3 linked regions of the Homo sapiens genome follow. The protein of the gene in region 1 purifies or fractionates together with the protein of each later gene. This does not show direct contact. Each region holds a gene or a part of one and is shown in the gene's direction. Other genes may lie near its edges.

Evidence for each region.
Region 2: the proteins of FMOD (region 1) and PLXNA3 purify together in Homo sapiens (affinity purification with mass spectrometry; one large-scale study listed by BioGRID and IntAct). This does not show direct contact.
Region 3: the proteins of FMOD (region 1) and UGT8 purify together in Homo sapiens (affinity purification with mass spectrometry; one large-scale study listed by BioGRID and IntAct). This does not show direct contact.

The regions. Positions count from the first base shown.
Region 1 is NC_000001.11:203,348,974-203,352,721, reverse strand, and holds the start of FMOD (fibromodulin precursor), read left to right. Parts: upstream 1-1,599; 5' UTR 1,600-1,689; intron 1,690-3,465; exon of another isoform or gene 3,466-3,476; intron 3,477-3,748. UniProt on the Homo sapiens protein: Affects the rate of fibrils formation. May have a primary role in collagen fibrillogenesis.
Region 2 is NC_000023.11:154,464,633-154,468,280, forward strand, and holds part of PLXNA3 (plexin-A3 precursor), read left to right. Parts: intron 1-121; coding exon 122-236; intron 237-385; coding exon 386-586; intron 587-791; coding exon 792-888; intron 889-1,024; coding exon 1,025-1,215; intron 1,216-1,302; coding exon 1,303-1,448; intron 1,449-1,517; coding exon 1,518-1,638; intron 1,639-1,743; coding exon 1,744-1,880; intron 1,881-1,990; coding exon 1,991-2,161; intron 2,162-2,424; coding exon 2,425-2,518; intron 2,519-2,599; coding exon 2,600-2,839; intron 2,840-2,912; coding exon 2,913-3,056; intron 3,057-3,134; coding exon 3,135-3,369; intron 3,370-3,449; coding exon 3,450-3,592; intron 3,593-3,648. UniProt on the Homo sapiens protein: Coreceptor for SEMA3A and SEMA3F. Necessary for signaling by class 3 semaphorins and subsequent remodeling of the cytoskeleton. Plays a role in axon guidance in the developing nervous system.
Region 3 is NC_000004.12:114,622,729-114,626,376, forward strand, and holds part of UGT8 (2-hydroxyacylsphingosine 1-beta-galactosyltransferase precursor), read left to right. Parts: exon of another isoform or gene 1-150; 5' UTR 151-152; coding exon 153-974; intron 975-3,648. UniProt on the Homo sapiens protein: Catalyzes the transfer of galactose to ceramide, a key enzymatic step in the biosynthesis of galactocerebrosides, which are abundant sphingolipids of the myelin membrane of the central nervous system and peripheral nervous system.

The DNA.
Region 1 (3,748 bases):
CTTTCCCATGTCAAGAAATGTTACCACCACCTACCCAGTTGCTCAAACTAAAATTCTAGGAATCATCCTTGACTTTTCCTAACTCTGCAAGACTTGTCAGTTCTCTGTCTAAAATATAAGATCTTCTCTTCCATTGCACCAGTCCAATCTGCCATTACCTCTCCTTGAGGCTGGGTTGGAGCCTCCCTGCTTCCACCCTGGCCTCCCCTTCTCCATACAGCAGCCCCTCCTACATGCTTTTAAAATGTAAATTAGATCCCATGCAAATCAGATCCCATGGCTTCTCCTGCTTGAAACATGTTTTTTTTTTTAAACATTTAGAATAGGCCGGACCGGATGACGCACGCCTGTAATCCCAGCACTTTGGGGCACTGAGGTGGGTGGATCACCTGTGTTTAGGAGTTCAAGACCAGCCTGACCAATATGATGAAACCCTGTCTCTACTAAAAATACAAAAAATTAGCTGGGCGTGGTGGCGTGTGCCTGTAGTCCCAGCTACCCAGGAGGCTGAGGCAGGAGAACGGCTTGAACCTGGGAGGCGGAGGTTGCAGAAAGCAGAGATTGTGCCACTGCACTCCAGCCTGGGCGACACAGCGAGACTCCTTTTCGATCTCCTGACCTCATGATCCTCCTGCCTCGGCCTCCCAAAGTGCTGGGATTACAGGCATGAGCCACCACGCCCAGCTGAGACTCCTTCTCAAACAAACAAACAACAACAACAACAACAAAAACATTTAGAATAAAAACCAAATCACTTCCATCGCCCAAAAGTCCTTTCATGGTACAGCTCCTGCCCAGCTTTCTGATCTTGTCTTTCCCTGGCTGAGGAATTCTATGGCTGTGAAATGGGTAGGACACAGTGAACCTCAGCTATGTGCCAGGTCAGGAGCCTCCCACACATCACCTGATACAGTCCTTGCTACAACCCAGCAAGGTAAGTGTTATTAACTCTGAATTTGTTGTGAGCATTAAGTGGAAGTGGATGATGCTAGTGCATAAGCAGTGATCAGCAAATGCTGGAGTCCCTGCCTTTCCTTTTGTTCCAGTGGTGGAGGTGGGCAGGACCTGTAGCCTAGAAAAGTCTACACTGCTTAGGGATAGAACTGGAACCAGAGCCGGCTGTCCCTTGTCATTCATGCTCCCTTATCCACTAGCCTGATGACCTGTCTATAGGGGGAGCTGAGAAGCGCGAGTTCTCGCTCTCTGGAGGGACATGTGGGTTGCTGAAGGAGTTAAGATGTCTCTTACCAAACCCTGGCCCTCCCCATCCCTGCATCTGCCTTTGTGGCTTTAATGAGAAATCCAGGCGCTTCATAAGAGACTGTACAAATAACTTCTAGGGCGCCACTAACTCATTCAGCAGAAAGGGACCCAGGGCTGCCAATGTTTCAGGGAAGATAAGTGAGTGGAAAAAAGGTGGTTTTTATAGCGTCAGGCGGACCGAAGGATTTGCGTGGTTGAGCGTGAACTCCGCCCCTGCAGCAGAGCTGAAAAAAACCAGGATCCGGGTTCCTCAGCCCCTTTTCACAATATTTGATTAGGAATTTGGGGCGGGACCCTGGTCTGGCACAGGCACGCACACTCTCAGTAGACTCTTTCACTCCTCTCTCTCTTCCTCTCTCACACGTTCTCCAACCCAAGGAGGCCAGACAGAGGGACGTGGTCACTCTCTGAAAAGTTCAACTTGAGGTAAGTATAGTCGTTTTACTTCGGGTTTGTCCCTAGCAGTTCCTTAAAAGAAATAAAGGAAAAGTGGTAGGGGATAGGGGAGATGGGGAGGCAGGGAGGGTTCATTCCTCCTTCTCCACATCTGGGCCATGACCCCAGGGATGCTGGAGAGTGGCAGAGAGGGTGTATAAGGGAGGGGTTCCAGCCCTGTACCTTTCTCTTACAGTTCCTTTATGGGTGCTGAGGGGACCTCCAATTCTCAGGCATGAAAAAGTGAAGGACCCTCTGTCTAGGGAAGCTTCTTCCCTGCTACTCATAAATCCCATCATGCTGGGAGTGTGGGCATTTTGAAGGGTATTCCAAGACCTGGATGTCCCTGCAATCTCTCTTATAGAGGGGTTTGGTACATAAATGCTATTATGGGAGAGGGGGAAACTTTTGTGTAGAATGTGTGTGTGTGTGTGTGTGTGTGTGTGTTTGGAGTGGAAAGGAGAGAATAAAAAGAAGCATTGAGAACTGGCCATGTCCAGGGAGCTGTGGATTGGGGTGGGGATGCAATCCAGGTGAGGGGATGGCCTCTGGCTTGACCTTCTCCACTGATAGGAGGGAGAGATCTTTCTCTAGAGTGGAGAAATGAAAGAACAGCAGTAGCTCCTGAGTAAACTTCCCCCAGCTGATAGTGTGGCAGTCCTGGAAACTTTCGACCTTACAGAAACTCTGAGCACAGGAGGGCCTCTAGCATTATGGGAAACAGTGTAAGACTATGCAACCCTGAAGCAACATTGCTAAGAGATGGGATGGGGTAAGGAGAGGCATAAGCTCCCCATCAAACCCTTTCAGCACCCATGGCTCTAAGAAGAGGCTGAAGTGGGCAGGGTGCACAGCCCCTAGAAAGCTGAGTCTGAAGGGGAAGGTGGCTCTTGTCTGCCAAGGTGCCCAGTCTGAAAGAAGGAGAAACGGAGACAGAGGCTCACTGTGCCAGCCCTCCAGACAGCCACCTTGGTCCTGCAACAGCCCAGGGCTGTGCATGGAAAAATGCTCTGTTGGCAGTGGGCCGCTCCATTCGTCTTCTCTCCTGGCCAGAGCCAGGAACCAGCCAGCTTGCCCAGGCAGTGGGCAGTTGGGTCAGCTTCTCCAAAACACTGTGGCTCTTTGTCTGAGGCCTGAGGCTGCCTGTGGATGAGCCAGGGTGCCTGCTCCTCTGCAACCTAGGAACTGATGGGATGAAGTGGGCCCAAGGAAACTGTTTTGAGGGGACAGAGAGGTCTGGGATGGATGGTGGTCAGGAGGTAACTCTGTTGAGTGTCATAGTTGGGGTCTTTCCCATCAGTTCACTGGATCTGATGATGTTGGCTTTTATACTCCTTTCTTTCTTCTGTTTACAGTTGCCAACCCCAGTAGGCCCAACAGCAATGTGAGGGCTGTATGTGACTCTTCCAGGCCAAGAAAGATTCTAAGGTTTCTCTGTCCAAGGGTGACACTCAGGAAGATGCCCACTGCTCACAGGAGTATGTCATGCATTGGCTATAGGTAACCAGGGTAGGGTACCCAGGCCACCCCTAGTCTCTTACCTTCCATACCTTTAGTTTCCCTCTCAGATGACATCAGACCCACATTTCCTCTTCAGTCTGCCCTGTTCCTATCTCATTAGCACAACAGGTTCAAAAGCAACAGGTTTCCAGCAATGTGGGGACCTAGACACAGAGCCTGGTCATCTAGGTGTCATCGCTGGGAGCAGGTAGCTTGGGAAAGGAGAGGAGAATGTCAGGGTCCTACCTCAAGCTGCTTTCCCTTGAGCATACACAAGAGTTTCCAATCTCTAGCTATTCTTTTGGTGTCCCTCATTCATTTCTCTTGGCCCCACATGGCTCTTGCATGATGCCCATGGTGGAGCATGAGGAGTGCTAACACCTTACTAGGCACCATGGAAGAGAGAAGCAGATTAACTCAGACTTCACACACTGAGTACCTGCTTTAGAAGGCAAGTGCCACACCCAGTGCCAGGGTCCTCAGTCTGGAAAGGATTTGTAACTGCTGCATGAAGACCCTGTCCCAGCCAAGTTGCATGTGTAGCCACAAA
Region 2 (3,648 bases), on another chromosome or scaffold:
CCACATCTCTCTGTCCCCTGATATGGCTGCCTTCTTCCTTCAGTTCCCGATGTGTCCTATTGGGGAGCAGTGAGGGGCAGTGCAGCCTCCTCTGTTATTTCTGAAGCCACTTCCCCCCCAGGTGCATGTCCTGTGTTGGCAGCCCTTACCCCTGCCACTGGTGTAAGTACCGCCACACGTGTACCAGCCGCCCCCACGAGTGCTCCTTCCAGGAGGGCAGGGTCCACAGCCCTGAGGTGAGGCGGGCGCCGCATGTGAGGGGCTGGGCTCTGTGGTGCGGGCGGGGCCACCGGCTTCTATGCGTTCTCGGTTTCTTTGAGCCTTCTCCAGGTTGGGCCTGGAGAAGGGTGGCCCTGTGTGCAGCTGACAGGTGCTTTCCCCGCAGGGCTGCCCTGAGATCCTGCCCAGTGGGGACCTCCTGATCCCCGTTGGGGTCATGCAGCCTCTTACCTTGCGGGCTAAGAACCTACCTCAGCCGCAGTCGGGCCAGAAGAACTATGAGTGCGTGGTGCGGGTGCAGGGGCGGCAGCAGCGGGTGCCTGCCGTGCGCTTCAACAGCAGCAGTGTGCAGTGCCAGAACGCCTCGGTGAGGTCCCACCCGCTGCCTCCCTTCGGGGTCTGGGCTGTGGCGTGGTGTGGATCGTTCTTGTCTATGCCCAGCTCTCTGGCAGGGAACTGTCTGAGTCTCCTGCTAGGGATTCCTGTACCTGGAGGAGGGGGGCAGCTGGCAAAAATCTTGGGTAGGGGTTCTGCACATCTTATCTGGGGTCCCATGGGTTCCTTTCCTCCAGTACTCCTATGAAGGTGATGAGCATGGTGACACCGAGCTGGACTTTTCCGTGGTCTGGGATGGAGACTTCCCCATAGACAAGCCTCCCAGCTTCCGAGGTGAAGGCATGGGCCAGGGAGCTTCCCTCCTAAGGCAATTGGCACTGCTGGGGTCGGGTCTGGGGGCCCTAGTGCTCCCCACTTTCCACTTTTCTGCCACTGCCTGCTCCGTCAGCAGTGCCTTCTGTGCCTGCAGCCCTCCTGTACAAGTGCTGGGCGCAGCGGCCCAGCTGTGGCCTCTGCCTCAAGGCTGATCCCCGCTTCAACTGTGGCTGGTGCATCTCAGAGCACAGGTGCCAGCTGCGGACCCACTGCCCGGCCCCGAAGACCAACTGGATGCACCTGAGCCAGAAGGGCACCCGGTGCAGCCACCCCCGCATCACGCAGGTCAGCCTCCCTCACCGCCCCTGCCCACTGCCAACAGGGCCCCTGGGAGTCTGAGCCAACTCTCTCACTGCCCATCCTGCTCCACAGATCCACCCTCTCGTGGGGCCCAAGGAAGGAGGCACCCGGGTCACCATCGTGGGTGAGAACCTGGGCCTCTTGTCCCGAGAGGTGGGCCTGCGGGTGGCTGGCGTGCGTTGCAACTCCATTCCGGCCGAGTACATCAGTGCTGAGAGGTGAGTGCGGCTCTGTGGGTGCCCGGGCCGTATGTGGCCTGGCCGGCCCTGACGCTCTCTGAGCCCTAGGATCGTGTGTGAGATGGAGGAGTCGCTGGTGCCCAGCCCGCCGCCGGGGCCCGTGGAGCTGTGTGTGGGTGACTGTTCAGCCGACTTCCGCACGCAGTCGGAGCAGGTCTACAGCTTTGTGGTGCGTGGCTGCCGGCCCTACCCCTTCCTGTCCCTTCTCTCTCCCGCAAGGGGCGTGTGGAGCAGCCCGGCCCGGCTCCTCCCCTCAGGGCAGCTTCTCCCGCAGACCCCAACGTTTGACCAAGTGAGTCCCAGCCGTGGCCCGGCGTCCGGGGGCACACGGCTTACCATCTCAGGCAGCTCTCTGGATGCTGGCAGCAGGGTCACAGTGACTGTGAGGGACAGCGAGTGCCAGTTTGTAAGGTGGGCCGGGGCCCTGCCAGCTTTGGGTTGGGCATCGTGTGGGGGGCCGTGGGGACGGGTGGCTGAGGGCCCTGGGCCACCCGCTCCAAGCACCCTGCTTGCCAATGTAGGAGAGATGCCAAGGCGATCGTGTGCATCTCACCTCTCTCCACCCTGGGCCCCAGCCAGGCCCCCATCACACTTGCCATTGACCGGGCTAACATCTCCAGCCCCGGGCTCATCTACACCTACACTCAGGACCCCACCGTCACCCGCCTTGAGCCCACCTGGAGCATCATCAAGTAAGACCCTGGGGGACTGGGGAGCCTGGCAGTGTCCAGAGGGCTCAGGGACTGGGTGGTCTCTGAGCTCCGGTGGGGCCCCTCCTGGAGCCTAGGCCCTCATTGGTGGAGGGGGTGGAGCTGTCCTGGCTGCACAGTACCCGGCACCCACTAGGCGATCCAGGGTCAGGGAAGGCCTGGGCTGCCATGGCAGCCTTGATCGCTCTCCAGGGCTGGGTGGGTGCACTGGAGGAGGGAGCCTGAGGCCCCTGCCCTGTCCCTAGTGGAAGCACTGCCATCACTGTGAGTGGGACCCACCTGCTGACGGTCCAGGAGCCCCGGGTCCGTGCCAAGTACCGCGGCATTGAGACCACCAATGTGAGTACCAGCTGCCCCGCCCCACCCCGACCCTGCAGCCCATGGCTTCACGTGCCTGGCTGTCCACCTTTGTCCCCACAGACATGCCAAGTGATCAACGACACTGCCATGCTGTGTAAGGCCCCCGGCATCTTTCTTGGGCGGCCCCAGCCTCGGGCGCAAGGCGAGCACCCTGATGAGTTTGGCTTCCTGCTGGACCACGTGCAAACGGCCCGCTCCCTCAACCGCTCCTCCTTTACCTACTACCCTGATCCCAGCTTTGAGCCGCTGGGGCCCTCTGGCGTGCTGGACGTCAAACCGGGCTCCCACGTGGTGCTGAAGGTGCGGGCGGGGTGGGGGCGGGGAGGGGCGGGAAAGTGGAGAGTCCTGGGCTGAAGTTGTCCTCCACCCCCAGGGCAAGAACCTGATTCCCGCTGCAGCCGGCAGCTCCCGCCTCAACTACACTGTGCTGATAGGAGGCCAGCCGTGTTCGCTCACTGTCTCGGACACACAACTCCTGTGCGACTCACCCAGCCAGACTGGCCGGCAGCCTGTCATGGTAGGTGGGGATGGGGAGACCCCCTGGGCAGCCCAGGGTGGGCGTGGTGGTCAGCTCACCTCAGGCCTGTCCCCACAGGTGCTGGTGGGTGGCCTGGAGTTCTGGCTGGGCACCCTGCACATCTCGGCAGAGCGGGCGCTGACCCTACCGGCCATGATGGGGCTGGCGGCGGGGGGTGGGCTCCTGCTGCTGGCCATCACAGCCGTGCTGGTGGCCTACAAGCGCAAGACTCAGGACGCGGACCGTACCCTCAAGCGTCTGCAGCTGCAGATGGACAACCTGGAGTCCCGTGTGGCCCTGGAGTGCAAGGAAGGTGCCTGAGGCGGGGCGGGATGTGGTGTGGAAGCTGGGGACCTCCCTCCTGCCCACTCATTCCCTCTCTCCACCCCCCAGCTTTTGCAGAGCTGCAGACGGACATCAATGAGCTGACTAACCACATGGACGAGGTGCAGATCCCCTTCCTGGACTACCGGACTTACGCCGTGCGCGTGCTCTTCCCGGGCATCGAGGCCCACCCGGTGCTCAAGGAGCTGGATGTGAGCCTCTGCCTGGCCTGCCCCCCACCATTCCCTTCAGGGCCGCCCCCACCCTC
Region 3 (3,648 bases), on another chromosome or scaffold:
ATGTCTTCTTTTGAGAAGTGTCTGTTCATGATTTTTTTTTTAGACAAAGTATTAGATCAGATATTTTTGGGGAAAAATGCTTTGTGATTGCTTGTTTTGAATGGTGAGCATTGTATTTTGTTTTAAGTTGTTTTCTGGTTGTTATTACAGCTATGAAGTCTTACACTCCATATTTCATTCTCCTGTGGAGTGCTGTTGGGATAGCGAAGGCTGCCAAAATCATCATCGTGCCGCCAATTATGTTTGAAAGCCATATGTACATTTTCAAGACGCTAGCCTCAGCCTTGCACGAGAGAGGCCACCATACAGTGTTCCTCCTCTCTGAAGGCAGAGACATCGCCCCATCTAATCATTACAGCCTCCAGCGCTACCCAGGGATCTTTAACAGTACCACCTCAGATGCTTTCCTACAGTCCAAGATGCGGAATATTTTCTCTGGGAGATTGACAGCAATCGAACTGTTTGACATACTGGATCACTATACTAAGAACTGTGACCTGATGGTTGGCAACCATGCCCTGATCCAGGGTCTGAAGAAAGAAAAATTTGACCTGCTGCTGGTGGACCCTAATGATATGTGTGGATTTGTGATAGCTCATCTTTTAGGGGTTAAATATGCTGTATTTTCAACTGGCCTTTGGTATCCTGCTGAAGTGGGTGCTCCTGCTCCATTAGCATACGTCCCAGAGTTTAACTCACTCCTCACAGACCGCATGAACTTGCTGCAAAGGATGAAAAATACCGGTGTTTACCTCATTTCCAGATTAGGGGTCAGCTTTCTGGTTCTTCCCAAATATGAAAGGATAATGCAGAAGTACAACCTGCTGCCAGAGAAGTCCATGTATGATTTGGTTCATGGGTCCAGCCTGTGGATGCTGTGTACTGACGTAGCACTGGAATTCCCAAGACCCACTCTGCCTAATGTTGTTTATGTAGGAGGAATCCTAACCAAACCAGCCAGCCCACTACCAGAAGTAAGGTTTGCCGAATTCCTTGGTAATTCTTTTTTAATGTAAAAGTCAATTTTGATTTTTGGAAGAGATATGATTTGTTATTTATATATATTGTATATATACAGTACACTAAAAGGTGATTAGGACATGGGGCCTCCAAAGTCCCTTTATGTGGGTCCACCACTTCCCTGGGAAACATTCCTGCTTTGAATGAGCATTTCTGTAATACTGAAAAGACCACTATGCCATATGGTCAATAGACTGCCTGGGAAGTAGTTTTCTGATTAAGTAATAGTTATAGTATGTGAGGAGAATATAGTTAAATGGTTAATTTTAATGAGTATAAGTGATTTTATCTTTAATTACACACAGAATCCCCTCTGTTCTGCCCCAAATAGCACAATTAACAGGTATATATGTTTAGCTTCAGGTCAGTGAACAGAGGTTCTTCTCTGGGAGGTTATTACCACTAGTTTATGTCCAATAATGAAAGTGAGGTGGTAACTTCCATCAAAGTAGGGAGTTGGTTAATTTAAGCTAGTAAGTAAATGTAATGGTTTTAAGGAAAGCATGCTCTATTGCAATTTCATTTCAATGATGGAATCAATGGCACTTTAAGAAACTCTGTTCTCTATGTGAAACTTAAATTCTTTTTATTGATTGAGCCAACAGTAAATCCCTTGGTATTCTGTTCACCATCCTTGTTTTTTATTAGGTATCCCACATTAGCAGAAGCCATACACATACCTATTGTTGTAGTGAGTTTTCTAACCTCAGATTGAATCTCTCAATTTAACCTCAACATCAGATCCCATTTACTAGGAAGTGTAGGGCTTGTTGCAGGACTTTATTCAAGTTACTTTTAATCCTACCTCTGGAAATAGCCACTCAAAACAATTTTGCTAAATTGTTGATTTCTAGTTCTGGTACTACATATTAAAAATTCTATCAGGGCCTTGATGAAGAGTAAATCCAGATTTTCTCGTATAGATGAGGACAATCACATGGCTGAATTTTGTCGTGAGGCAATAAGGTGATTAGAAATATACGACCTGTAGGCTTTTCTAATATGGCCATTAGAGTTATAATTAATAAATAATATATCGATATATTTCATATAACATGGAAACAGAAATGGCCTGTACACCCACAGCATTTCAAATATATACAGCCACTGGAGGCCATGAGGGCACACTTGTTCTCTCTGACGTCAACTGTAAAGGATAGGGATTAATCTCAGCTTATCTTAGCCATTCTTGAATTTATCCAAGCTCATTTTGAATCCTCAGATCTTCTCTGGCAGAGTCACCTTCCTAAAGGTAGCTAAAATCAGATTTTAGAAGTAGCTTCTAAAAGATTTGGTAATCAAGGTGTGTCTTTACCTTAACTGAGTCATTTAAAATGTTACACAAATCATCCTTGTTCTCTCTAGGTCATCATCTTTTCCGAGCTAGAACACTCCCCTTCTGCCAGCTCCCTTTGGTTTTCATCTGGGTGATGTCTCTCTTCTTCAGTCACTTGATTGAAGAAGAAGTATATGATGAAAAGGAGCTGGACGCGGTGTCCCATGCCTGTAATCCCAGCACTTTGGGAGGCCAAGGCAGGAGGATCACTTGAGTCCAGGAGTTCGAGACCAGCCTGGACAACATAGTGAAACCTTGTCTCTACAAAAAATAAAAATTAGCTGGGTATGGTGATGCATGTCTATAGTCCCAGCTACTCAGGAGGCTGAGGTGGGAGGATCACTTGAGTTCAGGAGGTCGAGGCCGCAGTGAGCTGAGATCACACCACTACACTCCAGCCTAGGTGTCAGAGTGAGACCCTGTCTAAAAAAAAAAAAAAAAAAAAAAAAAGGAATGTCCTGTCCTGATTGCCTTTTCTTTCCTTCCAGTTCCTGCTGTATATTTGTCTTGAGTTGCAGCAACTTGAATGACACAGTATAAGTGTAGGAAAATATTTTATGTTTTATTTTCAATACTCTACCTTTCAAAAAGATGCATAGCATGTGATAATTTTTTTTCTACCATCCAAGCATTTTTTTCTGTCATGGATTCCTCTGCACACAGATGTCCTTACTAGTGTCACTATTTTGTTTTACATGAAAAACATCTTTTTAGTGGTTTTTGGTGCTCGACATAAGGTATTACTCAAAATATCCTTTAATTTGCCATAATTTCTCATTTGACACTGGCTTGACTTTCTTTGTGGAGTTCTTTTTCCTCTGGGCTATTTGTAGTGGTTCTTTTGAAATGCGTTTTTTGTTTACAAAGTTTGCTTTGTGCCAGTTAGTTTGGTTGCATGCACAGACATGGCATGTGTGCATGTGTTATATATAGTATGTGGACATAGATAAGTATATTATTATTATTGGAAGTCTATTAGATTATCATTGTGAAGGGCTGTTTTCATTTCAGAATGTTATTTATAGTTTTTGAGCAGGGAGTATTTTGAAGAATGATGTGCAGTACTCTTTCAGGTATTCCTTATTCTGGTGTGGTTTTATATGCTTATGAACACATGTTCCCACTGAGATTTTTCTAGTAGATTTATTTGAGATAATAAACTGTACCTTTTCATTCTAAAAGTTAATGAGTTTCTCAAATGCCTGTATTATTTACAGGGCATTGTTGTGACAGTAACACAGGAAGGCCCAGAAAGTAGCTGCGTAGAACACATGATTCACATATAGCAGCTT